7 linked regions of the Homo sapiens genome follow. The protein of the gene in region 2 interacts with the protein of the main gene of each other region in a biochemical or structural test. Each region holds a gene or a part of one and is shown on either strand. Other genes may lie near its edges.

Region 1 (4,226 bases), on a different chromosome or scaffold from region 2:
TAATAAGGGGAATTCAGAAACAAGGCAAAATAAAATAGTGCGTAGTGGAGTTATTGTTTGTATTTATTTTGTTGGGAAATGTGAAAGATGTAAGTATGTAGTCCTCTGTGTGAATACACACACACACACACACACACACACACACATCTTAACAATGCTAGGACTTAGTTGTAGAAACATTTAGGTTAGAAAGAAGGTAAGGGCATCTAGAGATGGTATCAAAACTCCATACTTAACATTTTTGGAAAGAGTAGTGAAAATAGATCACTACTTTATTTCATAGATGTAGAAACAAGTGGAAAATAAGCTGTATATAATCTATACTGTATACTATACTATACTGTTATACTTTTAAGGATAAAATAATAAATCTTTCTCCAGATTGGTATCTATTAATATAAACCCTTCCCAGTGCAGCCTGTTCCTTAACCAGCTGCTCATAGGCCGATTCTCCAAGCGCTGTTCAAGGCAGCAGCTGACCAGCCACAGAAATTCCCTTAATCCGTGTTGGATAGTGGAGGTGACCTAGCAGCTGCTTAAGTGACAGACTGGCAACAGTTCCTTGATGTGATTTTTCTTAGGTCATTCAGTAAATTCAAGAGTAGAGAGGAAGGCTTTCTAGGGTCCTCACTACCCACCCAGGGATTGATGACTGATTGCTTCATGGTCATTGGATTCCTCACTGCAAGGTGTCCTGGGATTTTGTGGTTCATGGACCAATATAATTAGCATCATCTGGAAATTTGTGATGATCTGTGATCATCAGAGTCACCCCAGATCTACTGAATCAGAATCTGCATTTTGATGAAATCCCCAGGTGATTTGATGGAACATTTAATTCTGGGAAACACTGCTCTAGGACAAAGAAAGCTCAGTTTAAAAAGATTGTCACATGAACTTTACCATAGAATTTCAAGAATATTGCAAAAGGATTAATGATAACCTGAAATACATTTCCTTGGATTTATATTTCTTTTTCCTTTCTTTTTCTTTTTCTTTATTTCTTTCTTTCTTTCTTTCTTTTTTTTTTTTTGGAGATGGAGTCTTGCCCTGTCACCCAAGCTGGAGTGCAGTGGCACGATCTCGGCTCACTGAAACTTCTGCCTCCTGGGTTCAAGAGATTCTCCTGCTTCAGGCTTCCAAGTAGCTGGGATTACAGGTGCGCCACCATGCCCAGCTAATTTTTGTATTTTTAGTCAAGATGGGGTTTTACCATGTTGCCCAGGCTGGTCACGAACTCCTGAGCTGAAGTGATATTCCTGTTTTAGCCTTCTAAAATGCTGGGATTACAGGTGTGAGCCACCATGCCCGGCCCCTGGAGTATATTTCTGATCAATATTTACTTGATTATTATTTAATATTCCAGACACATCAAAACAACAGTACTATACAAGCTTTTTAAAAGAATGCTCAGATGACTTTGAAAAAAAATATTTTCATAAGAGACTAAAAGTAAGACTAGTTTTGGTTATGAATATTTTGTATAAGAATATTTAAAGATAAACATACTCTTCAAGGAACCAAACATGCTATATGCAAATCATTTTTAGCATAATGTTATGTTGATACAGGAAATACTATTCCCTCTGACATTACTAGTAGCAGTCTCTTGCTTTATAATTCTCTTTTTCATCTAAGTGTAATTTAAGATCTTTGTAGTAAGGAGCTCATTTATAGGACAGTCAAATTTAATGAATGGGAGTTGGTAGGTAGAATGCATTAAATATAACTGGTGTTCTTTTTATTATCTTTTGTGCTCATATTTAAGAACAGAGATTCTTGTCAGTTTTCTCAAGAGAAAAATTATGATGTAATAGACAGTGTACACTATTCATGTCAAAACACAATTTTACTTGCATTTTATAGCTTGCTTTAGCATTCTTTTAGAAAATGAATTTTCCCAGAAGACCTAATTGCCTTCTTATTAATGAGCCTGTAAGTGTTTTTTGTTATCCATTTACTATTCTAAATGTGTCTACTTGTGCTAGCTGTTTCAACAGTGTTGTCTCTGATTAAATCACAACTGCTATATTTGTTTTTGCCATTCACTAGTGATTCAGAAAATATTGGCATAATGACGTGGTTATGGCAGAGACTAATAAAAAACAAGAAGTAAAAATTAATGTTCACCCATTACAGTTGGCTGTATCATGAGATCAGAAGCTGGAGTTTGGGATAATAGCAACGTTCTCTATATTTTTGATACTGTAAATAAAAGTCTGCATAACCTATATTGTCTTAAATATAAAATATATAATTTATTGAATTAATGAACTGTAAATCAGTGTATTTCCATATGTACTTAATTTAGACACTAATGTTTAAAGAAAGATTTAATAGGAGACTGATCACTGTTAGAGGAGAAGTAGTGGTGGAGAGACTCTGAGAGGGCACTTTCGTATATCTTCAAGAACTTCACAGTTACTTTTTCTAGTTTGACTCCAAATTCTGGAACTTGTCTTTTTTACTAGTACTGCTTTTATTCTTATGAGCAATAATTAGGTTCATTTATTTTCTTATATGTTGGAGAAGAGAGCTTTTCCTAAAGCAATTGCAAAAATAACAATATGAGCTGTAATTTACTGAGAGCCCATGACCTGCTAGGGCCTGTGATCAGTGTTTTACATAATTTTAAATCCTCACAATATCCTTTAAGATGAGGATCATCTCCATTTTACAAACTAAGGCCTCGAGGGGTTAAGTAATAACTTGTCCCAAGTGGCTATATGAGTCACTGGTAGAGTCAAGATTCGTTAATGAATGTACACAAATGTTTAAAGATTAGACATTTCTTTGGTTGCATCTTGGCAGAAAATGTAACCCAGACTGGTTGCAACAAAAGGTGAATTTATTTGTCTCTCCTAACTACAGTTCAGGTGGAGCTTGATTTAGAAGTTGACGTAATTCCACTGAGACATGATGTTTCTCTGCCTGCTTAGTTTAGTTCTAGGGTATTCCAGGAGCTTCTTAGGCTCCATATAGAGGCACGATGGCTGTGGCAGCTCCCACCGAACAAGATCCCAGGTTCAAGTCCCTTAAGGAAATGTGAATTATCTGCTGGTTGCACCTGATAAGGCTCTAAGGTTTACAGTGCTTGAATCCACTGATCTTGTTTCCAACCATTGAATCTAAGGCTCTGACTGAGGGGAAGTTAGTGTGCTGATTGGCTTGGCCCAGGGTTTGTAATCTTTCTAATGGGGAAGAAAGAAGATGGGAGATGATGGGGAAGAGACAGTAGGATCAGATTGTTCTCTGTTGTGGACCACTAGGTGATCTCTAAGTGGGAAAGCGTGGAAGAGAAAGAGAGGAAAGAGGCAATTTGTGTCTGGCAGGCTTGTATACATTTACAGATCACCTGTTTTTAATCTGAGAGTGTTTATTTATTGGCTTTCCCTTTAAGGACTACTTTAAAGCATGAATTTATATTATTTCCATTATTTTATTTTCCTTGTCTCAGTATTGAATTAGTCTAACATTAAAAATTTGTAGAATTTGGTGTTAAAAAAGATCTTAGAAATTAATGACCCCTTCATTTGACGTAAGTTGCCCAAAGTCATACAGGTAGGAAGAACTTGAGCTCAAATTAAAGATTTTAATGTATAGGTTAGTGTTCTTACTATATATGTATCATATATTAATGTATACTATATATATATCATTTTCCTTAACAGTAATCTATATAATTATTATTTAAGATTAAAAAATTTTTGGCTTGTATTCCAAATTTCTGAAACAATATTTCCAAATATAAACCTGACTTAGTGATTGGATTTGATTAGAATAGTAGTCTGCATATAAGGTGATAATATGTCTGTGAATGCAAGAGACTATCTTAGATAACTGCTTGGTTTTCAGATATCATGACAGAATTTATACATGTATGCATGTATAGGTGTTTGCATGTATGCATTTATTTATTTTTAATAGAAAGCAAAGGGTAAAGTAAGCTGTGGTAAATGATATTGACACAGACAAAACCTACTAACTCTACTATTTTTGAAAACCTCAAGAGATGATGGTGATTTTATTTTTAATTTTGATCCTCTAACCTCTGCTGCCTAAATTTATTATGTATATCTGAGCAACATGGGATATTAGGAAGAGTTGCTATAAGAAATATCTTGGGGTACTGAATAATGAATAAAATGTAGAGAAGTAGCAGCTGTTTGCCTAGCTACCTCCTCTCCTAATGAGAGATTTACCCAGGCTGTCTTAATCACATGTTA
Region 2 (4,226 bases):
TGTGCTAATTGTATTTTCTGAGAGGCGAGAGCTATTTCAAGAATGCTTTTCTAATTTCAACTTTGATTAAAATTTTTTCTAAAATGTACGATTTCACTTGTTTTAATAAATATTCTATAACTTAGGGAACAGGATCTTTGCTGATTTGGGGATTTAAAAAATTCTCTTATTCTGTATTGATTCTCATTTGTAGGAGATTGGGCCAATGTGTACTGATTCTCCTTTTTTTCCTGAAATTGTCACATTAATCAATCCCTTATATGTAAAAGACTGTTAGAGATTCCACAGTCTTAAAATTAAATTCCACTTAATTTTAAACAAGTTAATGAAATTTTTGCTACTGCTTATCCTCAAATAGAGATGAGGGTTTTTTCTCCCTACATATGGGCCTTTACAAAGGTTCCATCCATATTATGGGACAATTTTCTCAATTATTTTATTTTGAATAATAATATGCTATTTAGAGAATATGCATTAGCCTAAAACAACTTCAATCAATACTAATTTAGGATGCTTATAGAGGTTGATTGATGAATGGGTAAAGGAGGAGGTAAAGATATTAAACAGATTTAGTAATTATTTGTGGGTGTATAATCTCATAGTACTCAATATTGGAAGTCACTGTAAACAAATTCTTTAGAATCACTTTCAAAAGCAACATAAAAAATGGACACATTGTGAGGATCAAGAATATATTCTTATAGAACAACTGACATAGTCAACAACACTGGTATTCTATAAGTGGGCATTTGTGGCTTGGGATAAGTTTCCAGAAACAGCATCATATGTGGAGACAAAGAGTTCTGAAGCACAAATAGCTTATGGGTGAAGATGACGAGTACTGGGAATTATCAAATGACTCAAAAGAGGGCTTTTGTGATGTCATCAATATGAGAAGATGCATGTGAAGAGTTTGCATAGACATATTTCATGAAATGTGAGACTGGGAAAAGCAACAAAATATGTGATCCTAAACAAGCAAGTCAGGCCTGGTACACCTGCTGGACCCCTAAAATGTAAAAGGCCCGTCCCTGGCACTCCCATTATCTGATCTTGTGATAGAAACACTTTTTGCACATGGTGGAGAGCTCTTGGAGTGCCAGGAAATCCCTCTTTCAGCAATGTGTCAACACTGAGGACTGGGCAGAAGCATAAGTAGAAAGTTACTGCTGCAGCTCAGCTTTCTTAACCTTGTCCACAAGAGTCCCTTTATAAATGTATTAGAGATGTTAATAACAAAACTACAATATGTGTGTCTTTTCACCAAACTTGATGCCAAAGTAAAAACTCAGTTCCAAGAAATTATTAAAAGGGTCACTTGATTTCTGGCCAAGTAAATCTGCCAAGACAAAATGGAGTCATCTTATTGCTTGAGAGTCCTGCTAAACAGCTTTGATCTTGTAATCATTTTGTTTTTTTTGTGTGTGATGAATGGCTCTAGGTGCCTTCATTTTGGCATTAAGCTAGGAAATGATTATATGCTCATTATTGGAACAATCTGAGGTCTGGATGGGGTATATGGAGAGAGAGAATATGTGTAGTCTCAGTCTCAGAAGAATTTTGATCTTTGTAACCAGAGAAGATAAACAGGCAAATAAATAGAGGAGGTTTGAAGGTATTTGTCTATGGAATTTGGCCAGTGTAAAAGTTGGCTTCCTTTGTAAGAAGACTATGTTGGCAAGTTCCATCTTGTTTCCCGCAAGAATTTTTGTGATGGGAGTGATAATGGTTTCAGGTGTGGCTAGTGCATTTTGGGAATTTTTCCTGGGCGATAAAACTGACCTGAATTTCATTGGCTAATCCTGTCTGTTTGTCTCCCTTGGAACACTAAAAAAGTCAAAAGGGTAGGATAAAATTCAGATGTGTTTTGAGAATTTCTAGAATTGATAAGTATTTTTACATCTAAGGATTGAAATGTACAAAATTTAAAAAATGAGATATCAATATACCTTTATGAATTCTCTTTTTAATTTTTTTCTTGCCCTACCCTTCTTTTTAATTTTTAACAAAGAAAGATTTAAATAGCAAATCCATGTGCTCTAGGAGCCCTGGAGGAATTCCTAATAGACTCTTTTAAAACTTGTGTCTCAGAATCAACTTACTGGATGCAGAAAAATATCTTCTCTGTAATGCTATTAATATTATATTTTTATTTCCTAATCCCAGGTTTCTGAAAATCATTTTGTTTCCTTTCATTCTTTTGTAGTTTCTAGTAAAGAAAAGGGGGAGCTTCATAAGGAATTCTATTGCTTCTTTGCAACATATATTAAATGTATGTAGGGGGAAATAAGTCTTAGTTGGAATGTATGTGCATTTATGTTATGTATATTCATAGACTTTGGAAGAGAGAGGAAGGAAGTTTTGTTTTTAGTTCACCAAAAGATGAACTGACTTTCTTGGAAGTATTTTCCTAGCATCATAAAAAGTTAACTATAGTTTCCATCTAGAGAAGTGTCCCAGACATTTCAGCAAAAGTCAACCAAATGTCTCTGAATTCATATGCCTTTACCCCTCAGCAAATTATATACTTTATGCTACTGAGGACATGTTTAATGTTCTACCTGATTGCAATTATAACCTTTATATCTTAGATTGAAACCTGTTAAAGTAAGTGAAACATACCATGCCAAAGTCAAACTGTCTTTAGAAAAGCTATACTATTTGTTCATTCAATGATGGTCATAGTCAGGTCCGTATTCCAAATCTGGCCCAGATCAAGAAACTCAAAGCCACAATAAACACTCAGACCAGGTGATCAACTGACTAGCAGGATAAATCTCCAGGTATAGCTGGTAGCTGTTACTATATTTAAATCACAGCACCAAGAATATCTCTAACAGCTCCTAAGAAAATACCATTTCATATAAGTATAAATAATCATCAACCAAAATATTTATGCTTATAAATAACAAATACCAACCAGGTAAAGTGCCAAGCTAGAACTTGGTAGACACAAGTCTTTTCCAGAAGGAAGTCCATGATTAAAGTCAAGCTCTAAAGGAAGGACTTGGGAACAAACATTTCCTCTCTACTCTTACAGGTTATTTAGAGAAGTATACGAGCTCATTTAAAAATGTTTTATTTACCAGCATTTCAGAAGAGGTTTTTTAAAGTTAAGTTCCTTTAAGTAATGTCAAGAATATAGATTAATCAGTTGTGTATCAGTGAGAGAATATAATCTCATAAGGAACAATTCTTTAAGGCATACAAATTAGCTTGAACATCTTGTAAATGTTGCAGAGATTATATAGAAATGTCAATAATTATGTTTTATGGGAATTGCTGCTGTGATAAAAATCTGTGTAAATCTGATAAAATCTGTGTAAATCTGATAAAATCTGTGTAAATATAAAAAAGCTTATATGGGAAATAACTTTAATATAATCTGAAATGTCACGAACATGCAAATCTGAATTGTAAAAACATTTTTCTTTTAGTTACCATTTACATTTTAAAGATATAATTTTAGGTGTAAATGAAGATTCAATTCCTCAATTTTCTTGGAAAAAATCTGCAACTATTTTGGATAAACACCATTTACAAAGCACAAAAGAAGCCCTGGATATTCTTTTTGAGACTGATACTTATTTCTAATTTATACCTCACAGTTTATAAGTGGGGAACTGATGTGACTTACCCTATTAAAGCAGTGCTCATGATTGGGTCCGTAAAAATGCTGGAGACATCTCACATTGTTTTTGTTGACGATCTTGTTGAAGAAGTCGTTGACATATTTGATAGGGAATGCACACATGGCAGATCGATCCATTGGTTCGGCAGAATCTGGCTTGCTTTGTGCGAACACCCCGAAAAGAATGTCATCATTCAGGCTGGCTCCTATTTGTCTAGCAAGCTGGGCCCCAGGCTTGCTGACATACGCAGCCTGAAGTATATTAAACACTTCCTTCTTTGTGGATCTCTTTTTTCTCTTTTCTGTGAGAATACACTCCAGAGGCATTTCCATGTAGGAATGCAATCCAGAGTTTATGGAACAGAACCTGATTATTCTTGTGTGAAAAGTCTGAGCATCTAGAGTTTCCCTTTGGACCGTCAAGAAGTAAATAAAATTGTTGCTTTCAAAGGCATGGACATACTTAATGGGGTAAGAATCTCTGAACTCAGGTAAAACATCAATGTAGGACTGGTCCGTCAAAAACATAAAACCATCTTTCGTTTCCTTTAGCCTTCTCACTGATATCGAATGCAATGGATGATCTGGGAAATAA
Region 3 (4,226 bases), on a different chromosome or scaffold from region 2:
GAGTAGCCAAGTGACATCAGGAAAGAGGATGATTAGAGTGGCAACATGTTTCTGGATAGCAGCAACAGTAATAATAATATCAATAACGATTTTTAAAAATAATAACTCACTGTATGTGCCAAGCACTGTTTCAAGGGGTATACATGAAATAATTAATTTAACCATCACTGCAACTATTAGTTGGTACTCACTATCATCTGATTTTACAGATGACAAAACTGAGCCACAGAGAGATTAAGCAATTTGTTCTGTTTTTTTTTTCTTAAAAAAATAAAAGGCATTACACAAAATAATTTCCAGCAACATCATGGTGGTCTTGAAAGGTGCCTATTGCTTTCAGTAACTTTTGAAAAATAATCCTTTAAATCCAATAAAGCACAAAAGATCTCTTCCCCAATTCCCCAATTACCAAGAAGCTTCACTGTCACTTGCCATCATTAAGTTAACGAGATAAAACTGCAGTTCTCCAAAATATCTTAAGCTAAAAATGTGAGGAAAAATAAACAAACACACTTTGGGAGGCCGAGGCGGGCGGATCGGATCACACGAGATCAGGAGATCCAGACTATCCTGGCTAACACAGTGAAACCCCGTCTCTACTAAAAATACAAAAAAATTAGCCGGGCGTGGTGGCGGGCGCCTGTAGTCCCAGCTACTAGGGAGGCTGAGGCGGGAGAATGGCGTGAACCTGGGAGGCGGAGCTTGCAGTGAGCCGAGATCGCATGACTGCACTCCAGCCTGGGCGACAGAGGGAGACTCCCTCTCAAACAAACAAACAAACAAAACCAAGAGCAGAAAGGAAACAGATCAAGCTACTGAACTTGAACATCTATCACATTTTCTGTTAACCTCAGTTTCATCATATGAACTATGAAGATATGTATGCACATCTCCACTGAGTTATTAAAATAGTTGATAAAATCTTTAAATAATACATAATTAAAAAAACCTGCTAAACCAATAAAACTAAATTAATGTCAATTGCATTTTTTCTCCTCTTTTAATCCCTCTCTTTTAGAGACACTGAAAAAATTAAATTGTGAAGTAATGAAGTGAAATTTAATATCTGATTAAAAAGTAAACTGCAAATTTCATAGACTTTCTTCCTGTGGATTTTTAATAGTAATTTTATTTAAAATGGTGAGAAAAGTTAAGTTGCCTTAACGATACTATAATCCTATCAACTCTCTTTGCCTTAGGTAACATGGGAGAGGAGACAGGTATATGTTTGAGATGAAGGAGAAAACAAAAGCGGAGCACGCTGTTTAGAGTAGAGCTGGCTCCAAAGAGCCCTTTATGCAGTGTCAGGGCATGGTCCAAAGCTGCATTCAGTCACCAATCGGCAGCTTTGGAGAAAAGAAAACACACAGCCTGATAGCTAGCCTCCCCTTCTCAGCCATTCAATCCCGTTTAAGTGTTCTATGTGGACAGCTGTTAAATTTGGGTAACACTATTTAGTTGCCCAATAAGAAGGACCCATGCTAGTTGCTGTAATGAGTTGCTACTAACTCATTACATCCTTTTTACCCTAATTATGCAAATACAGTGGAAATACAGTTTAAAAAAACTGTAAAAATATAAAAGAGCCATAAATGCATAAAATGTCTACCATATACTCTGACATCGACAATACTCTCTAGTAGAGAGAGTGTAGACATTGAGGAATGCAGAAAGGGATAGTGAATAGAAGATTCAGAGAAGAGAAAAAAAAAATGAACAATGTGTTCCCATAGAAGCTACACAAAGTGTTTGTAAAAGAGGTGTCCAATGAGGCAGACAGTACCTCTGCTGTTTTATCTTCCTGGAATTTCCATTTTTCCTTCCACATAGACTTAACTTTTAAATTTATCATAACCTCAAATATATAGTATATATTTATTTTCCTTGGCCTTTGAATGTTAATTTGAAAACTACATGCATATTTAACTTTGCTTTAGTAGTCTGATTATTAAGACCTAAAGACACTAGCAAGAAAAGGCCATTAAAATATAAAATAACATAATGAAGAAAAATAGCCTTTCACTTTTCAAGTTTTGAAGTGTATGTCTGGTTCCTTCCCCACAGCACAGAGTGACAGAATTCTATGAGGTTCACTTCATTCCTATTTTAACCTATGGATAAAAGAATAGAGAAAGGGCTATCCCAGGCATTGAGGCTGCTCTGAGATACTCCACTGATGTTACTTTCTACAAACAATTTAGATACTTTAAATTGTCCAGAAGATATTTGTTCTCTTAAATAGCATCTCATTTGAACATTTCATGAGTGAACTAGTCATAGCACATTTCTTTCTTCTTCTTTTTTTTTTTAATTGCATTACTTCTGCAGAAGTCTAATTCTAAACTTAGAACTATGCTCCCAAGATTACACCAAACTGGCCCCAGCGGCTACATGGGCCCATGTTCATTTTTATTCACCCAACATTTTGTCTGTATTATTAGCTGAAACAAGTTTTACAAGGGGTTTGCTTGTTTGTTGGTTTGTTTAGGAGGCTGAATGATGAGTTCAAAGTGAGTCAAATCACTTACATAATACTTGCAAGACAGAAATGAGTGTTGTCATCCAGAGGTTTTCTGTCTCTAGGCTTTGGAGCACAAAGATTTAAACTAAGACCAAGAAGGACAAGCAAATATTTAGAATGTTCTGGATTTTAGTCATTTCTGGGGCTGGAAAGCTTTGAATGAGTGGAAGCAATTCTAAGATCAGGGAGTATACTATGCCTATGCAGTCTCTAAGCAGAGAGCTTTGTGACTCACTGGCTCAATAAAAATTTCTAGTACTTTCAAATTCTTGATTTCTCTTTTCTGATGAAATTAAATTCTACACAAATTACCTGTCTCTTTTATATAACAGAGGGTAAAATTATGAAATGATCTTTGAGGGGGATTCCAGGTAATTACTCCTTGATGTGCAGCTTCACTTCTACAAAAAATAATCTGAGGCTCTCCTGGACCTGTTAAAAGAATAAGAATGTTATGTAATATGAAAAATAAGACATGGATAAAGCATTCTTCATATTATAAGCATGCATTATTGATAACCATATTTTGACAAATGATGAATTCAAAATAAAATTTAAAGAAATGCATCTGGGCTCATTTAATTTGTTTTAGAGTAAATTCCTTTAACAAAGTAAATGTCACACCAGATTGGCACTGTGAAACCTAAGCATTCCACTGACTTGAAGATATCTAAGAACCCCCTCTTCCTTTCATATACATTATTCATATATATTCTTGCCCAGATACTACCTAAAAATCCTGGAATTTGTAGATTTTGCTGTGCTAAAAATCTGGCATTCATAGCACCAATAAATTTAGCAGTCATTGAGTAGCACTTGTCATTGCTTCCAGTAACTAGTCATTTGAAACTGAGAAAAACTGATAAATGTTTAAATAAAATGTCTGAAGTAAAATTTACATTAAAATGTACCCATTTGAGATACAGTTTAATGCATTTTTAACAAATGTATACATCCACATAACCAACACCACAATCAAGATAAAGAAAATTTCTGTGATCCCAAAATGTCCTTCTGTGGTACTTCCCAGTCAACTCAGCTCCTTTGACCAGACTCACGTACCTTCTGATCAACTTTCTGTTAACTACAGATTAAGTTTGTCTTTTTACCCATTGCATGTAAATAAAATGAAACAAACAGTAAGTACTTTTTCACTCCTAACATATTGCACTCAATGTAATGTTCTGAAGATTCATTCACTTAGTTGCATGTGTCATAGTTAGAATTTTAAAAAATTATCAGTAGTTATTGTAAAGATACACCACATTTTACCTAGGATTCAACAGTGAATACACATTTGGGCTGTTTCCAGGTTTTGGCTACTATGAATGCATCTGCTTTGTCATGTTTCCTCTTTGGTAAATACCTGGAGTGAAATTCCTGGGTCATGGCTGCACATCCTGACCAATAGTTAGTAGTATCCGTATTCTTAAGTTTAGCCATTTTAATGGATGTATAGTATTATCATCTCAGTGTTGTTTTAATTTGTATTTCTCAGTTAACTAATGATGCTGAGCATCATTTAATGTGCTTATTAACCACCTGTGTATCCTCTTTTGTGAAGTATATATTAAAAATGTTTGTCCATTTTCAATTGAGCTGTTTTAGTCCTTATTTTGCAGCTGAAAGAGCTCTCTGTATATTCTGGAAAAACTTCTGTTGTTGAAAAAATTAATTTTGATTTTTTACAAACTATTTATTGCTT
Region 4 (4,226 bases), on a different chromosome or scaffold from region 2:
AGCTCACTGCAACCTCCACCTCCCGGGCTCCAGTGATCCTCCCACCTCAGCCTCCCGAGTAGCAGGGACTACAGGCGCATGTCACCACACCCAGCTAATTTTTGTATTTTTTGTTTTTTGGTTTTTTTTGAGATGGAGTTTCACTCTTGTCGCCCAGGCTGGAGTGCAGTGGCACAATCTCGGCTCACTGCAGCCTCCGCCTCCTGGGTTCAAGCAATTCTCCCACCTCAGCCTCCCAAGTAGCTGGGATTACAGGCACGTGCCACCATGCCTGGCTAATTTTTGTATTTTTAGTAGAGATGGGGTTTCACCATGTTGGTCTGGCTGGTCTCAAACTCCTGACCACAGGTGATCCACCTGCCTCGGCCTCCCAAAGTGCTGGGATTACAGGTGTGAGCCACCGTGCCCAGTCTATTTTTGTATTTTTTGTACAGATGGAGTTTCACTGTGTTGTCCAAGCTGATCTTGAACTCCTGGGCTCAAGTGATCCACCCAGCTCAGCCTCCCAAAGTGCTGGGATGACAGGCGTGAGCAACTGGCCAGGTTATTCTTATTCTGCCTGGTGGGAAGGTTGGCATTAAGGGAGTTAGAAGAGTCCGGCTGGAGCATCTGGAAGAGGGTGCAGCCTGAGGCTGCTGTCATCACAGGGTGCTTACCCTTCTCCACAAACTCCCGTGTCTGCTGATTGCTGAGGTTGGGATAGGGGGAGGCCCCCAGGCTGAAGGTCTCCCAGAGCAAGATGCCAAAGCTCCACACGTCGCTTTCGGAGGAGTAGCGGCCTGCAGAGGAGGCGAGGAGGTGAGGCAGCGTGAGTGCACCCTCCCTGGGGCCAGGGCGAGGCAGCCGGCAGGACCCAGGCCTGGCCTCTGGCCATGGAGTCCAGGGTAGACAGGGACTAGGTACCGTAGTTAAGGGCCTCAGGTGCGGTCCACTTCACGGGGACTTGTCTGAGGCCCCCTGAGGCTGCATAGACCCCATCGGCTTCCTCTCGGGACATCCCAAAGTCACTGATCTTCAGGACATTCTTCTCTGTCACCAGGCAGTTCCGAGCAGCCAGGTCCCTGGGTGAGACAGGGCAGGGGCTCATTTGGCCAACAGTCGCCTGCCCAGCCCTGGCTGAACACTCTAGGAAAGCCAAGGACAAAAGCTGCTCCCGGCCCTGGGCACCCCTGTCTACCACAGAGGCCAACTCCCCCTCTGGAGCTGATGCCTGATGGTCCAGCGGGGGGCCCTAGGGGTATAGGTACCTCTTGACTCTGGTCGGGGGTGTTGGCAGGGCCCGTGGCCACCGCCCACTCACCGGTGGATGCAGCACTTGCTCTCCAGGTACTCCATGCCAGCAGCTGCATCCCCCACCATCTGCAGCAGAGTCTTCACCCGCAGGCGGGCCCCCTCCGTGCGGAGGAAGGTCAGGAAGTCGCCCCCTGCAGGTGGGGAGGACCCCTGCTGAGCCTCCTGAGGTAAGGCTGCCACCTGACCAGGCTGCGCGCCCTACCTGGAGCTCAGCGCCCCGCGCTCACCCTGCACAAGCTCCATGACGATGTAGATGGGCTGCTTCTGGGTGCAGACACCAATGAGACGCACGATGTTGGGGTGGCTGTACTGCTTCAGGATCCTGGAGGGCACTGCTGCTCAGGATCTACGTGGCCAGGCCCGCCTCCCCAGGGCCCCCCAGGGATGATGGGAGAAGAGCTTGGCCTCCAAGGCCAGCAGACCCGGACGTGTGACCTGGGGCAGCCTCTACCCTTCGGCACTATAAGGGGGTACTACCCGCAATGGGGGGCCTCGAGGACTAAACACCACCACGGTGGTCAAGCACTTCACACTGTGCCATGCAGTGTAACCTCTGTGTATGCGGGACCCGTGGTGATCATTAGTTTATCACCCACCTCGCTTCCTGTAGAAACTTGGCCTTGAGGTCAGGTGGGAGCGTCTCTCGACAAGACTTCACCGCCACCAGGGTGTTGTCGGCTCGCAGGCGTCCGCTGAACACTTCGCCAAAGTTCCCCTGAAACGGTCTTGGGCTCCTACCACGGCCTTCCCAGTCCCGCAGTTCTCTTCTCCGCTTCCTACCCATTCTGCTTCCTACCCCTGGGTGAGGGGCCCCCGTGTTCGGACCCCTCACCCAGGCTCTCTGGGAGTTTGACCCTCGCTGGGGAACCTAGAGAGCACATGGGGCAGGCAGGGAAAGTTGCCTCCGATGTGCCACCCTTCCTGAGAGAAGTGACATGGAAATCCAAAAATCACTCTCCCTTGGGTTTGAAAAGCATTCTGATTTTTAGGACAGTGACTTCTTCCCTAAACAGGTATCTTATGGCTTACAGTAACAGGGTGTCTCCCTGCGTGCACACAAGAGCTCGATGGGGGCGGCCTGGGTGGGGGTGATGAGGTCAGGGTGCTGGCAGAGCTGTCTGCTGGGAGTTTTCAGGGTAGGTACTGTCCCGTTTCCTGGAGGATGGTGTGTGGTGGGGGCTGGGCAGGGAGTCGGGGTACAAGTGGGGAATCAGATGGGGCAGGGAGGTCTCTGGGTGGTAGGGCAGGGGGCCCAGGCGCGACTCAGGAGAAGTCGCCAGCGACAAGGAGGCCAGCAGAGGCGCACTCACCCGTCCAATCTGCTCACCCAACACCAGGTCCTCATGGTTCAGCACCCACTTGTCCTGGGGAAGAGAGGAGACAGGGGATCAGAAGTCTGAAGAAAAGGGGTGCTGGGCCCTTAGAAGGGCTGTGTCCTCCATTTTTTGGCGCCTCCATATGTGACCAGGGGTGGGACCACGTGGGGAGCACACTGAGATGACTACGGGGTCCAGGCAGGTGCCCTGACCAGGTAAGCACCAACCTGGTGTGTACAGCCCATGGCATAGGAGTGGCCCTGACATTCCAAACCTAGAGCAAGGCTGGCCCTGAGGGTCACTCACTCTGCATCTTGTATGTAGACGGAGGGCCTGGAAAGCCCTTTCTGCTCAGACGCTGGGTGGGCCTGACCCACACTCCCCAAGCCCTGCCACAGGTGGCATGGGCCAGGCTGGGTGCAGGCTCACCTTGGGCACAGCCCTGTGCAGGACAACACCACTCTTCTTGGTGAGGGGCTGCTGGGTGCTCAGTAGGTGGTCGATGAGCAAAGGAATGCTAGGAAAGCCTTCCCCTTCCAGTCGGTACAGGTTCTGCAGGGCAGGGGACCCGGGGTCAGCAGCCTCCATTCTGAGGGGGCGTGAGCCCTGGGAGGGGGAAAGGGAGAGCAGCAGGGGAGAAAGGGCCTGCCCAGGACCAGGGGCAGAGAGACCTCCAGAAAAGATGCCATCTGATGGCACATGACATCCTGCTGCCCCACCAGGGGAGGACTCACACTTAAGCCTCTATTTTGTTGCAGGGACAGGGTGGTCTCTGTGGCCCCTTCCAGCCAGCCCTGCTAGGGAGGCATCCAAGACCTGGCAGCTACCCCCTACCCTGAAAGGCCATTTCCCTTGGGGAAGGGAAGGGAGGGGAAGAGTGAGGCCTGGAAGGCTCGGGTCCCAGCCCCACTCACATCCAAGGACTGGATGATGAAGTGCCGGGGCAGACCATCCCACAGCACCGACAGCACGTACTCCTGCTTGCCCTGGCTCTCCCGCACCAGGAAGTCCCCAGAGTGCACCAGCAGCTCAGCCACCTCTGCCCTCGGGATGGCCCCGTGGTACCACAGCTGCTCATGCAGGGGCTTCTGCACCTCCGGAATGAGCTGCAGCGGTGGAGGGAGCTGGGCAAGGGAGGATCGAGGAGGAGTCACTTAACCACCTTGTTGAAGAGGCCGTGGGGGCAGCCGGGGGTCTCTCTCTCCCCCCTATATGCCCTCAGCCCTTACAACCATGGAGTGGCATGCAGAGCCATCCACAGGCCCCTGGAGTGGGCACTGGACTGGCCCAGGCTCACGCTGGGCAGAGCTGGGAAGGGAAGCCCAGGCAGGAAGACCCCAAACCAAGCTGGTGCCTCCTCCTCCAGGCCACAGGCCCCCAACCCGCTCCTGAAGCAGGGAGAGCCATGGAATAGTCGAGGTTGCTGGTCCCTTTAGCACACTGGGGCGATGGAAAGGGAGGGGTCACAGGGGCAGGGTCTGGGGACATCTGCAGCCTGGAATCCCAGGGAAGAGAGGAACTTCCCAATACAAGCAGCCTGGGCAGAGCCTCCTCTCTAGGACATCCCAGTGATTAAACTCGAAACACAACAGTAGGGGGGCCCAGGCTGGGCGCCAC
Region 5 (2,769 bases), on a different chromosome or scaffold from region 2:
AACAACCCACTTAATTGACTAAAAAAAGAGTCTAGCTCATTGCTTTCCTGATTCTCCTCAGCATCTGGCAGTTGTAGTGTTCCTGTGTTCAAGCTTTACTTGAACTTTACAGAGCTTCCTGTGTCACCTCTGGTTGGAGCGGAGGGGCTGTAAAGGTGTCTCTCATCTAGCACATGCAACTTAGCATGCTCTCTTGAACATCTTATCTCAGGACTAGCTTACGCAGCTCTTGAAAAGCAGAGTATTCCATGTTGTTAAATCTATGTATTGAGAAGATGAGATAAACCCTGGTAAATTATGTAGTTTATGAAAACTCCATTGACCTGGCCTTTGCATTCAAATTCTTTAACTTGGCCCATAGCTTCTTTCTCCTTAGCACTTCTGGTCCTCCAGCACCATTCTGACAAACTTTATGAAAGCCAAATCAAGATAAATAGAACCTCAGTGCTGATCATCATTAATGTTTAATGCATACCCAGATGGCATGACAGCAGCCAGCGTGGCCTTTTTGTTGAAGTTAATTGACATAAAAAGTAAATAAAACCCTATTCTTCCTAACAGGCCCAGTTCTGGTGATGATTTCACTTTTGACAGAAGCTGTCCCTCAAAAGCAAACATGCAATAGAAGAAACAGATCTCAGTAAGTAGCTTATTTTCCTTACAAACACTACTGAAATTTCTTATTAATGCTCCTAATTTTCCCATTATGCACTGCAGCGTGAGTATGGCTCCAGAGGCTGCACCTAATAACTTCCTTGAGCTCTAATGATTATTGGTATCTTTTACTAATGTGTATCTGTTCTAAACTACACAAAAGCATACAAAGCCATCTCCCTCTTTTAAAAACTTGAAAATGTGGGTATCACCTTTAATTAAATATTTTAAATTTCTCTCTCCAAATCAGATTTATCTATGTGTGGGAGTTTAGATAGTCCCAAGACTTTTGCTAAGACAGTATTTCCAATTTAATCTTAAGTAGAAAAATGTATGTAATTAAGAGATTTATTATAAAACATTTGGCAAAGAAGGAAAGAAAACAGTAACTATGTAGGTAGTTTTTATTAGATTGCTATAGGAGTAATAGGGAATTTTTAGAGGACTAGTTTCAAAATTACACACCTGCAGAAGTTTTCATTCTTCTACCTACTGTGAGGTATGGTATTACAAACTAAGAAGCATTAATGGAGAATAACTAAAGGGTCTCATAACTGAGTTGTATATAATATTGCTATCTTGCTATTGTTAAAGATAGCCCTGATTTTAGGATGTAGCTATTTTAGAGAGTCAAAATGGAAATAACACATTGTCCACATAGCTACTGTGAAAGCTGTAATACAGAGTTATCCTTTATTTTGACACATTTTTAAAAAACTGTGAATATAACTTTGTAACTAATAAGGGATGTTCACATGAAGCAGTTCTTAAGCCTTCTAACTTCTTAAGGGATCTCTTAACCAGCATAAATGGAACTGTTTCAAGGCCATGACATTAACAGACCTTTTTAGGTCCCAGTAGCCTGCTAGTCTGTAAAAGAAAACAATGCTATCCACTCCATTAAAATACAGAAGGCATACAGTATTGAACAGTGCCTAAAATAAAAAGGAGAGGAGGACTGAAGAAAAGTACAGCATTGCCTGCTAGTAGAATGCAACCACTTCAGCAATAATAATAATAAAAGCAATATTCACTGTCATAACAAAGACCTTCACTGTATTGAACTAAAAAAAAGTAGCATGTATGTCGTCATGGAATGTCACATCAGGGTTTGCTGTTGTATAAGATTATAGGCAGTAACACTGATCATATAGTGCAAACTAGGTAAAATTGCGTTTCACTGTGTGAAATGAACAGAGGTGCAAATGCTCAGTAGGATACCATTAAGACATAAAATGGCAAAAAATAAATATCAAAACTTTTATCAGTGTAAAAAAGTAACTGGGTTATTGTATAACCTAGAGTCTGGCAAAAAAGGCCTCAAAAAAGTTCTCAGTCTTCAGAAGTTTACAAATTAAGTGCCCTTTCAGGATTCCAGTCACACTAGGGACTCCATGCTCTCAGCAGGGTCTGATTCATCTGCAATAAGAACAGCACCATTTTTGTCTACTGTCATGGGACCATTTCCATTTTCTTTAGTGCTGACCAAGCTAAGCATTGCTTTATAGATGAACTGGTATTGTTCCTGAAAAACAAGAGGAAGACAGTTTGAGCCAAAGAACAGTTTAGTGATTTCACATAAGGTGGAAATACCAATTAAAATGGTAATTGTGAAAAACACACTAGAGAAACAGCAATAGCATAAATGTTATCTAAAAAAACTAAAAAAAAAATCATTTGAATTTATTATAGTCAAGACCTATACCTTCTTCATGTCCTTTTGATCTCTGTTAGCTTGGAACCAATTCTCAGTGCTGATTGTTAATGAACAATCATTATTGGTTAATGAAGATAACCAATATCTGGTTAATATCTGGTTAATGAAGATAACCAGAGAATACTATCCTCTAAAGCAGGGCTTCTCAACCTGAGCACTACTGACATTTTGGGCCACATAATTCTATGGTGTTGAGGGCTGTCTTGTGCTGTGTAGTTTGCTTAGCAGCATCTCTGGCTTGTATCCTCTAGATGCCATCCATCTGCAGTTGTGACAAGCAAAAAAGTCTCCAGACATGGCCAAATGTCCCCTGGGGGGCAAAATCACCCCCAATTGAGAACTACTGCTCTAAACTGTGAGTCTGAGTTTCAACTGATGTAGTACAGGTTTTACACATA
Region 6 (4,226 bases), on a different chromosome or scaffold from region 2:
CTTTTCTTTTCTTTTCTTTCTTCCTTCCTTCCTTCCTTCCTTCCTCCCTTCCTTTCTTTATTTTGAGATGGAATCTCGCTCTGTTGCTCAAGCTGGAGTGCAATGGTGCGATCTCAGCTCACTGCAACCTTTGCCTCCTTGGGTTCAAGCAATTCTCCTACCTCAGCCTCCTGAGTAGCTGGGATTACAGTCGCACACCACCACACCCAGCTAATTTTTGCATTTTGAGTAGAGACAGTTTCGCCATGTTGGCCAGACCAGTCTCAAACTCCTGACCTCAAGTGATCCGCCTGCCTCGGCCTCCCAAAGTACTGAGATTACAGGTGTGTGCCACTGTGCCTGGATGTGAATGGGATCTTTCTAAAGCCAGGACCTAAGCTCCAAGAAAGGCTGGGGAGACTTTAGCCCCAGGGTAGATCCCTTCATCTCCCGGCCAGGAGCCTCTCTGGGGGTAGTTTTGATTCCCACTTGCTAGTTCCCACAGGACACTTGTCTGGGTGGCAACGTGGAGTGCCGGAACCTGGAAAGATGCACTTGACCAGCAGGGGAGGGTGGAAGATGGCCCCTTTCACTGCGAGCCCAGGGCAGCCAGCAGCCTCAGCAGAGGTGAGGCCCAGGCAAGAAAGAGGACAGAGTGACCTCTTCCATCCTCCACACCTGCACATAGGAACCTCCAGTCTGGTGACCAAGAGAGCAGGTGTCTCCTTGCAAGTCTCAGCCCTCAGACCTTGCCAAGAAAGAGCACCCTTGCTTACTTCAGACAGCACACAGATCCCTGGTCCACGGCAGGAAATCACCCAGCCACATGCTCACACTGACCTGGTGGCAAAGGCCTCTCTGAAAAGGGTCACCCTGTATAAGGCTTGGGCACAGGATGGAGCAGAAAAAAATAGAGCATCTCACGTCCCACCTGACACAGGGGCAGGTGACAAAGCTGCACCTCTCCCTTTGGGAGTTACTAGTCGTCTGGGTGTGCCAGCACCCCCAGATCTTTCTGATCAGAGGAAACCAGATAAAAGCCATAAACGCACTTTGCAGAAGAGTGCCCACCTACACACAAGCTCCCATCCAAGATCAGGAGCTGACAGGCTACCAGGAGACTCATCAGAAGCCCAGGGGCTAGAAGGTCAGAACCAGCTTAATCTATTAAGTGCAGAACATCAAATGTCCTTTTAGATGCTACGTGTGGTTGTGTGCTTCACACATACACAAACATTCTCTGCACTTGAACAACCTCAAGCATCAGGGCCTCCTTCAGTTTTGCACCCCAGGTGTGTCTTTACCTCCCTCTGGTCCTGGCTCAGCATCCCAGGTATCAATCTGTGCAAAGAGGCCAGCAGAGAGTAGAGATGAGAAGGAGCCCAAGGGGACATCCTTGTATCCCATGGTTGTGGAAAACAGTAGCCGTTTTGCGAGTGGGGACTTGCGAACCCCACAGTGGCTGGCAGCAGCTGGTGTAGGGACATGACAGCCATGGGGACAGGTTCTCCATCCAGGCCCACAGGCCCACCCCCCTTCCCCTGCCACCGAGCACAAAGCAGGGTCACCCACCTGGGCCTCCGCTGTCAGGCTCGGGACTCAGGAGAGCCCAGGAGGCAAGTTATTCTCCACTTGTCCCCACTTGGCTGCAGGCAGGACCCTGATCTGCAGTGTGGCCTCAAGACACTCGGCCTCCCCGTCAGTGATGCACTGGGGGCCAGCTTGTGCCGGTATGCTAGAGCCGGTTGTTAAATTCTCAGGAATTTTGTGAGCTGAATTATTCAAATCATTATGCAAGATTAAGGTATAAAAACTATACGGGCCGGGCGTGGTGGCTCATGTCTGTAATCCCAGCAGTTTGGGAGGCCGAACTGGGCAGATCACTTGAGGTCAGGAGTTCAAGACCAGCCTGGCTAACTCTACTTAAAATACAAAAATTAGCCAGGCATGGTGGCGGGTGCCTGTAATCCCAGCTAATTGGGAGGATGAGGCAGGAGAATCCCTTAAACCCAGGAGGTGGAAGTTGCAGTGACCAGAGATCGTGCCACTGCACTGCAGCCTGGGCAACAGAGTAAGACTCCTTCTCAAAGAAAAATAAAAAAGAAAGAAAAAGAAAAAAAAACTATATAAAATTAAAATGATAAAAAATTAAAGTTGAATTATACAAGATACAACTAAATGGATTCTATTAAAACAAAGGTTATAAATACTTAAACCTCATCACTTCCTGATTATTTTTACTGCATCTTAATAATAGCTATGCTTTGAGGTTCTTTAACTGACTGTGTCTATAAGGCGGAAGTACTCTATCGTGCTGTGCTGCTGCGCATCTCGAACCCATGTTCACGCAAGTCATGTTAGCAACTTGAAATTGGCCCTGGTGGGAGTATTTATACAACAGGAACAGGCAAATGCTACAGGTCGGCAGTGATTTGTTTCATGGATTTTCTATGCTTAAAAGAGCATCTTGTCTGTAGCTAGAACACTGTGAGTAGCACAAAACATTGAGGAAACTTTTCTGAATATTGAAAAACTACTACCCAGTTCAACAAAGAAGCCGCTCATGGCACTAAGGCTGCAGCCTGCCCCAACTCTTTGTTGTTTCACTTTGATCTGCTCCTTAACATGAATGAACATTTCAGTGTTTGTGCCAACACCACACTTGCTCATCTGCTGCAACCAATGCTTGGCTACGGATATGACAGTGCAAAGTCACGAGAGCTTTCTATGAGACTCAATCACCTCTGCGGTATTTAGGACAGAGACTATTGCATATTTTGTTATTATTTGTAAATTAAGTGCTACGCATCCTTTATATCAGTACATGTTACTATAAACTTATGTATGTATACAATACATTTGTTTCCTGGAAAGCTGGTTGTTAAACGTTTACCAGGACGCCATGCTCTTCATCTACAAGATGCCTATCTTGACCTCACACTTCCCCCAGTGTGCTGGCAGGTGCCAGAGAGCCCATCAGATAGACAGACAGACAGACACCACAAAGTAGAAATGATTCCTTTCCATGCTAATGTGTTAAAAAAAAAAAAAAGAGAGAGAGTTTAGCCTTTCCCATAAAGCACCAAATAAAATCAAGAAAATGGGCTATGACTTTTGACCCTATTTTCGTGTGTAATACTTTTTAAAGGATCCTTTTATTTATTCAAATAAAATAGTAAATAAAATTAAAAGTATCATTTAATTTTTAATTTTTTTCACTCTGTCGTCCAAGCTGGAGTGCAGCGGCAGTCTCAGCTCACTGCTGAGATCTCCTGGGTTCAAGCAATTCTCCTGCCTCAGCCTTCTGAGTAGCTGGGATTACAGGTGCCTGCCACCATGCCCAGCTAATTTTTGTATTTTTGGTAGAGATGGGGTTTCACCATGTTGGCCAGGCTGGTCTCGAACCCCTGACCTCAAGCAATCCTCCCACCTTGGCCTCCCAAAGTGCTGGGATTACAGGTGTGAGCCACCACGCCTGGCCAAAATAAAAAGTATTATTTAACTTTATGTAAAAATCCAATTGCACCACAGAAATGGCAGGAATAAAAGAATCTTAAAATGAAATAATTTATATAAACTTTAACATAAAAGGTAGAGCCAGGCATGGTCACTCATGCCTGTAATCCCAGCACTTTGGGAGGCTGAGGCAGGCAGATTGCTTGAGCTCAGGAGGTTGAGACCAGCCTAGACAACATGGTAAAAACCCATCTCTACAAAAACCAAAATTAGCCAGGCGTGGTGGTGCACACCTGTGGTCCCAACTACTTGGGAGGCTGAGGTGGGAGGATTGCCTGAGCTGGGGAAGTGGAGGCTGCAGTGAGCCATGATTACACCACTGCACTCCAGCCTGGGAGGCAGAGCGAGACCCTATCTCAAACAAACAAAAACAAAATAAAACAAAACAAAAAAACAGGCCAGGTGCAGTGGTTTATGCTTGTAATCCCAACACTTTGGGAGGCCAAGGCAGGCAGATCACTTGAGGTCCAGAGTTTGAGACCAGCCTGGCCAACATGATGAAACCCTGTCTCTATCAAAAAAATACAAAAATTAGCAGGGCGTGGTGGTGCACACCTGTAGTCCTAGCTACTCGGGAGGCTGAGGTGGGAGAGTTGCTTGAACCCGGGAGGCGGAGGATGTAGTGAGCTGAGATCAAACCATTGCACTCCAGCCTGGGCAACAGAGTGAGACCTTGTCTCAAACAACAACAACAAAAACAAACACCCCCCAAATCAATCTAAGGTGGAATA
Region 7 (4,226 bases), on a different chromosome or scaffold from region 2:
CAGGTACAATGGGGGAGCTGAAGTGACCACAGGTGCCATAGAAGACTCAGATGATCATGAAACTGGCCTGTGGCCATCTTGGGTTGAATTAAAGGAGCCTCGTGTTTTCAAACCAAGGGTGGTGGAAGTCTCAGTGGACCCTGGGAAGGTCAGTCCGCCCCTGGGTACTAGGCACAGTTCAGGAAACAGGGGAAGGCATTGGCAAGTGGTGTGTCCAGGAGGGCAGGCAGGAGGGGGACGGAGGAAGTGTTGAGGGACTGTATAGACAGGACACATTGTCAAGTTTTTTCAAAGCCCTCCCCGCTCCCACACGCATGACATTAGCTACCTCCTTAATAATCACTATAATAATAACACACATATTTCGTGTTAGGGTCTGCCTTAATACACGTATGTATTCACTTAATTCTCCTAACAATGTTGTGAGATAGCTACTATTGTTAAACCCCATTAGACAGTCAGGGCAGCAGTTGCTAGAACAGGAACCCAGGCTGTCTGCTTTAGGGCCTGTGCTCCTAACCACACTACCCGTAACCACAACACTGCACTGAGCACCTCTCAGTGCTTGGTGACACTGGCTCCAAGATGTGGACACAAGCATGAAGCTCCCCACAAACCTCCTGTCCTCTGCATAATTGTCCGTCCTCTTCTTCACGCCTCCTACCACCTCCCCAGACTTGGGCCTCACCGCACTTGACCTCTGAACCTCGCCTACCCGCTCCTGCTCAGTGATACCCACTTCCTGCCAGCAGCCTCCACCTGCATGCAGCCTCTCTATTCCAACAACCTCCAAACATGCCCACATTTCTCCCTTCCCCAAAGGAAACTATTCTAAGTTCCATCTTGCCGTCAACATTCTGCTGTATCTTCTCGCCTTCCCTTCACTTGAAAAAGTGCTTCACACTTGGGTCTCCACTTCCTCACCTCCCACTCCCTCCCAGGCTCTGCTGTCTGGCCTCCGCCTCCCACCCTCACACAGAGAAATCTCTCACCAAGGTCACCCCCACTGCCAAATCCAGCGGTAGCCTCTGACACGCCCTCTCTTGTTTCCTGAAGCTTCTCCGCTCTCTCGGTTGTTCTGACTTGGCCTGGTCTGGATTTCCTCTCTTCTCCAATGGCTCCTTCTCCTTCGAGGGCAGCTTTCCCCAAAGTGGGGTCCTAGGGCCAACCTTTTGCACTCTCCACTCTCTTCCTTAACCGTCTATATAGCTTTTTTAAAAATTTTTAATTAATTAATTTTTTTTGAGACGGAGTCTTGCTCTGTCACCCAGGCTGGAGTGCAGTGGCTCGATCTCAGCTCACTGCAACCTCCACCTCCCAGGTTCAAGTGATTCTCTTGCCTCAGCCTTCTGAGTAGCTGGAACTACAGGTGCCTGCCACTACACCCGGCTAATTTTTGTATTTTTAGTAGAGATAAGGTTTCACCACATTGGCCAGGCTGGTCTTGAACTCCTGACCTCATGTGATCCGCCCGCCTCGGCCTCCCAAAGTGCTGGGATTACATGCATGTGTCACCGCCCCCAGCCCCCTCCTATATAGCCTTAATGATCATCTTTACTCTCATGAGTCCCAAATTTCTGCCCTAGCCCGTTGTGCCCTCTGCAAGGGCCACAGCAAACAAACTGAGGAGTTTTAGTGGCAATTAAGAAAAGGTGTCCCTTCCTCTGGGCTGATTCAGGGGCATGGATTAGCATGGGCTGGTTGCCTGCCATACAAAGCACAACCTAATCGAATTGCTGGCAGCTTCGTCCACCTGGATGTTCCTCTCCACAAACCACAATCCAACAAGTACCCCCTAGAACTCATGAACTTATACCTGCTCCTGTGTTTCCCGCCTTAGCAAATGGTGCCATCATCCACCCAGCTCCTTAAGGAGACTTTGAGCCACCCTTGATTCCTCCCACTCCCCATAACCCAAATCAGTCACAGAGTCCTGGATTCTCACTCTGCAAAGTCTCTTCAATCCCTTCTTTTCTCATATATGTATGACATTTGTGAGGATAGATTTTTAAAAGCTTTTTGAGCCTCAGTTTCCTCATCTGTAAAATGGGAACAATAATAATATCAAGGGGCCGGACACGGTGGCTCATGCCTGTAATCTCAGCACTTTGGGAGTCTGAGGCAGGAAGATCACTTGAGGTCAGGAGTTTGAGACCAGCCTGGCCAACATCGTGAAACCCCGTCTCTACTAAAATTATAAAAATTAGCCAGGTGTGGTGGCGTGCACCTGTAGTCCCAGGTACTTGGAAGGCTGAGGCAGGAGAATTGCTTGAACTCAGGAGGTGGAGGTTGCAGTGAGCCAAGATTACGCCACTGCCCTCCAACCTGGGCAACAGAGCAAGACTCTGTCTAAAATAATAATATCAAGGCCAGGCATGGTGACTCATGCCTGAAATCCCAGCACTTTGGGAAGCCAAGGTGAGAGGACTGCTTGAGCTCAGAAGTTTGAGACCAGCCTGAGCAACATAGCAAGATTCTGCTTCTATAAAAAAATATACAAAAATTAGCCAGGCATGGTGGCACACACCGGTAGTATCAGCTACTCAGGAGGCTGAGGTGGGAGGATCACTTGAGCTCAGGAGTTTGAGGCTGTAGTAAGCTAAAATCATGTCACTGTACCCCAGCCTGGGCATCAGAGCACGCCCCTGTCTCTTAAAAAACTAATAATATAACGGTGTTATTGTGAGAATTAAGTGAACCAAGGAGATAAATACTTGCTGTAGTATACTTGCTCAAGTATATAAAGGTATTCAATGAATGATAAATTCCTGCCTCTTGGGCCAGGTCTCGGTGGCTCATGGCTGTAATCCCTGAACTTTGGGAGGCCAAGATGGGCGGATGGCTTGAGCTCAGGAGTTCAAGACCAGCCTGGGCAATATGGCGAAACACCATCTCTACTTAAAAAAAAAAATATTAGCCAGGCATGGTGAAAGAATCATCTGAGCCAGGGAGGTCAAAGCTGCGGTGAGCCGAGATTGTGCCACTACACTACACTCTAGCCTAGGCAACAGAGTAGGACCCTGTCTCAAAAAAAAAAAAAAAAAAAAAAAAAAAAGAAAGAAAGAAAGAAAAGAAAAGAAAAACAAAAAGAAAAAGAAAAAGAAAAATTCTTGCCTCCTTAATAGAATTAATTCCTAGTAATGCTCCCTTGCACTTTTTCAGCACTTTACAATTTTTTAAAGCTCATACACTGTTGTTTTTACTGGGAGGCAATATGTGTAATGCTTAGCAAATGCAGCCCAACTATCTGGGTTCATACATCAGCTCCACCACTCACTAGCCATGTGAACTTGCACAGGATATTTACTTTCTCTGTGCCTCAACTTCCTCATTTGTGAAATAGGATAGTAGTAATTTCTAACCCCGTTAATACACAGACAGTACTTTGAATAGTGCCCAGAACATAGTACATGCTCTATTATCTACTATTATTATTATCAGTACAATCTTCTTTTGTTCTCACAATGACCTTACAAAATTATTAGATAAGGAGACAGGCTCGGACTGGAGCAATGACTTGTCCAAGAGGTGGCCTTGGAGTCTGGACTCCAGGGTCCTGTCCATAGGGCTGGTCTTGCCCCAATCCCTACTTACTCTTCAGCTTGGATTGAGTCAACAGGGGCCACGTAGTTGCTGGGAATGCAGCCAGTTTTTCCGGAGCTGAGAGACCGAGCCTCCCACCAGTCACCTTCACTGTAGGCACAGAACAGGGCATGGTCAGCAGCACCTCCAGCCCCCAAGGCACCCTGAGGCCAGGTGGAGCCACACAGGTCTGCAGAGATGAATCCTGCCAAACCCTCATCTTGGACACCCCCCACCACTGGGGCTTTTGTCCGCTCTGCCCCAGCCACTGCAGCTTCCCTGGGAGGGCTTGTCCCTGCAGAAGGAATAAGCTCGGGGGCACTTAGGGCTCTTAGCTTCTTCCTTGGGCTCCCCAGCTGGGTTGGGCTGGGGATTGGGAATTCAGAGGACAGCTGACTAGGTCACTTCCCCACAGAAAATGGCTACTGATTTCCTTCTGGATAAAATCTAGACTTCTCAATGTGGCTTAAAAAGCCTGACAGAGACCAGGTGTGGTGGCTCATGCCTGTAATTCCAGCAGTTTGGGAGGCCCAGGCAGGCAGATCTCCTGAGGTCAGGAGTTCGAGACCATCCTGGCCAACATGGTGAAACCCTATCTTTACTGAAAATACAAAAAATTAGCCAGGCTTGGTGGCTCTTGCCTG

The links.
Region 1: of the proteins of MET (region 2) and PTPRK, one has a biochemical effect on the other in vitro, tested with the Homo sapiens proteins (one large-scale study listed by IntAct).
Region 3: of the proteins of MET (region 2) and PTPRC, one has a biochemical effect on the other in vitro, tested with the Homo sapiens proteins (one large-scale study listed by IntAct).
Region 4: the proteins of MET (region 2) and FES form a complex in vitro, tested with the Homo sapiens proteins (one large-scale study listed by BioGRID and IntAct).
Region 5: of the proteins of MET (region 2) and PTPRG, one has a biochemical effect on the other in vitro, tested with the Homo sapiens proteins (one large-scale study listed by IntAct).
Region 6: the proteins of MET (region 2) and BLK form a complex in vitro, tested with the Homo sapiens proteins (one large-scale study listed by BioGRID and IntAct).
Region 7: the proteins of MET (region 2) and FGR form a complex in vitro, tested with the Homo sapiens proteins (one large-scale study listed by BioGRID and IntAct).

What each region holds. Positions count from the first base shown.
Region 1 is NC_000006.12:128,510,291-128,514,516, reverse strand, and holds part of PTPRK (receptor-type tyrosine-protein phosphatase kappa isoform b precursor), read left to right. Parts: intron 1-4,226. UniProt on the Homo sapiens protein: Regulation of processes involving cell contact and adhesion such as growth control, tumor invasion, and metastasis. Negative regulator of EGFR signaling pathway. Forms complexes with beta-catenin and gamma-catenin/plakoglobin.
Region 2 is NC_000007.14:116,699,696-116,703,921, reverse strand, and holds part of MET (hepatocyte growth factor receptor isoform b preproprotein), read right to left. Parts: coding exon 3,638-4,226; intron 1-3,637. UniProt on the Homo sapiens protein: Receptor tyrosine kinase that transduces signals from the extracellular matrix into the cytoplasm by binding to hepatocyte growth factor/HGF ligand. Regulates many physiological processes including proliferation, scattering, morphogenesis and survival.
Region 3 is NC_000001.11:198,711,680-198,715,905, reverse strand, and holds part of PTPRC (receptor-type tyrosine-protein phosphatase C isoform 1 precursor), read right to left. Parts: intron 2,954-4,226; coding exon 2,834-2,953; intron 1-2,833. UniProt on the Homo sapiens protein: Protein tyrosine-protein phosphatase required for T-cell activation through the antigen receptor. Acts as a positive regulator of T-cell coactivation upon binding to DPP4.
Region 4 is NC_000015.10:90,890,489-90,894,714, reverse strand, and holds part of FES (tyrosine-protein kinase Fes/Fps), read right to left. Parts: intron 3,734-4,226; coding exon 3,524-3,733; intron 3,162-3,523; coding exon 3,039-3,161; intron 2,658-3,038; coding exon 2,604-2,657; intron 2,009-2,603; coding exon 1,890-2,008; intron 1,616-1,889; coding exon 1,521-1,615; intron 1,425-1,520; coding exon 1,301-1,424; intron 1,062-1,300; coding exon 904-1,061; intron 780-903; coding exon 657-779; intron 1-656. UniProt on the Homo sapiens protein: Tyrosine-protein kinase that acts downstream of cell surface receptors and plays a role in the regulation of the actin cytoskeleton, microtubule assembly, cell attachment and cell spreading.
Region 5 is NC_000003.12:62,292,571-62,295,339, reverse strand, and holds part of PTPRG (receptor-type tyrosine-protein phosphatase gamma isoform 1 precursor), read right to left. Parts: intron 2,727-2,769; exon of another isoform or gene 2,623-2,726; intron 2,180-2,622; coding exon 2,033-2,179; 3' UTR 1-2,032.
Region 6 is NC_000008.11:11,500,161-11,504,386, reverse strand, and holds part of BLK (tyrosine-protein kinase Blk), read right to left. Parts: intron 1-4,226. UniProt on the Homo sapiens protein: Non-receptor tyrosine kinase involved in B-lymphocyte development, differentiation and signaling. B-cell receptor (BCR) signaling requires a tight regulation of several protein tyrosine kinases and phosphatases, and associated coreceptors.
Region 7 is NC_000001.11:27,617,965-27,622,190, forward strand, and holds part of FGR (tyrosine-protein kinase Fgr), read right to left. Parts: intron 3,694-4,226; coding exon 3,595-3,693; intron 1-3,594. UniProt on the Homo sapiens protein: Non-receptor tyrosine-protein kinase that transmits signals from cell surface receptors devoid of kinase activity and contributes to the regulation of immune responses, including neutrophil, monocyte, macrophage and mast cell functions, cytoskeleton remodeling in response to extracellular stimuli, phagocytosis, cell adhesion and migration.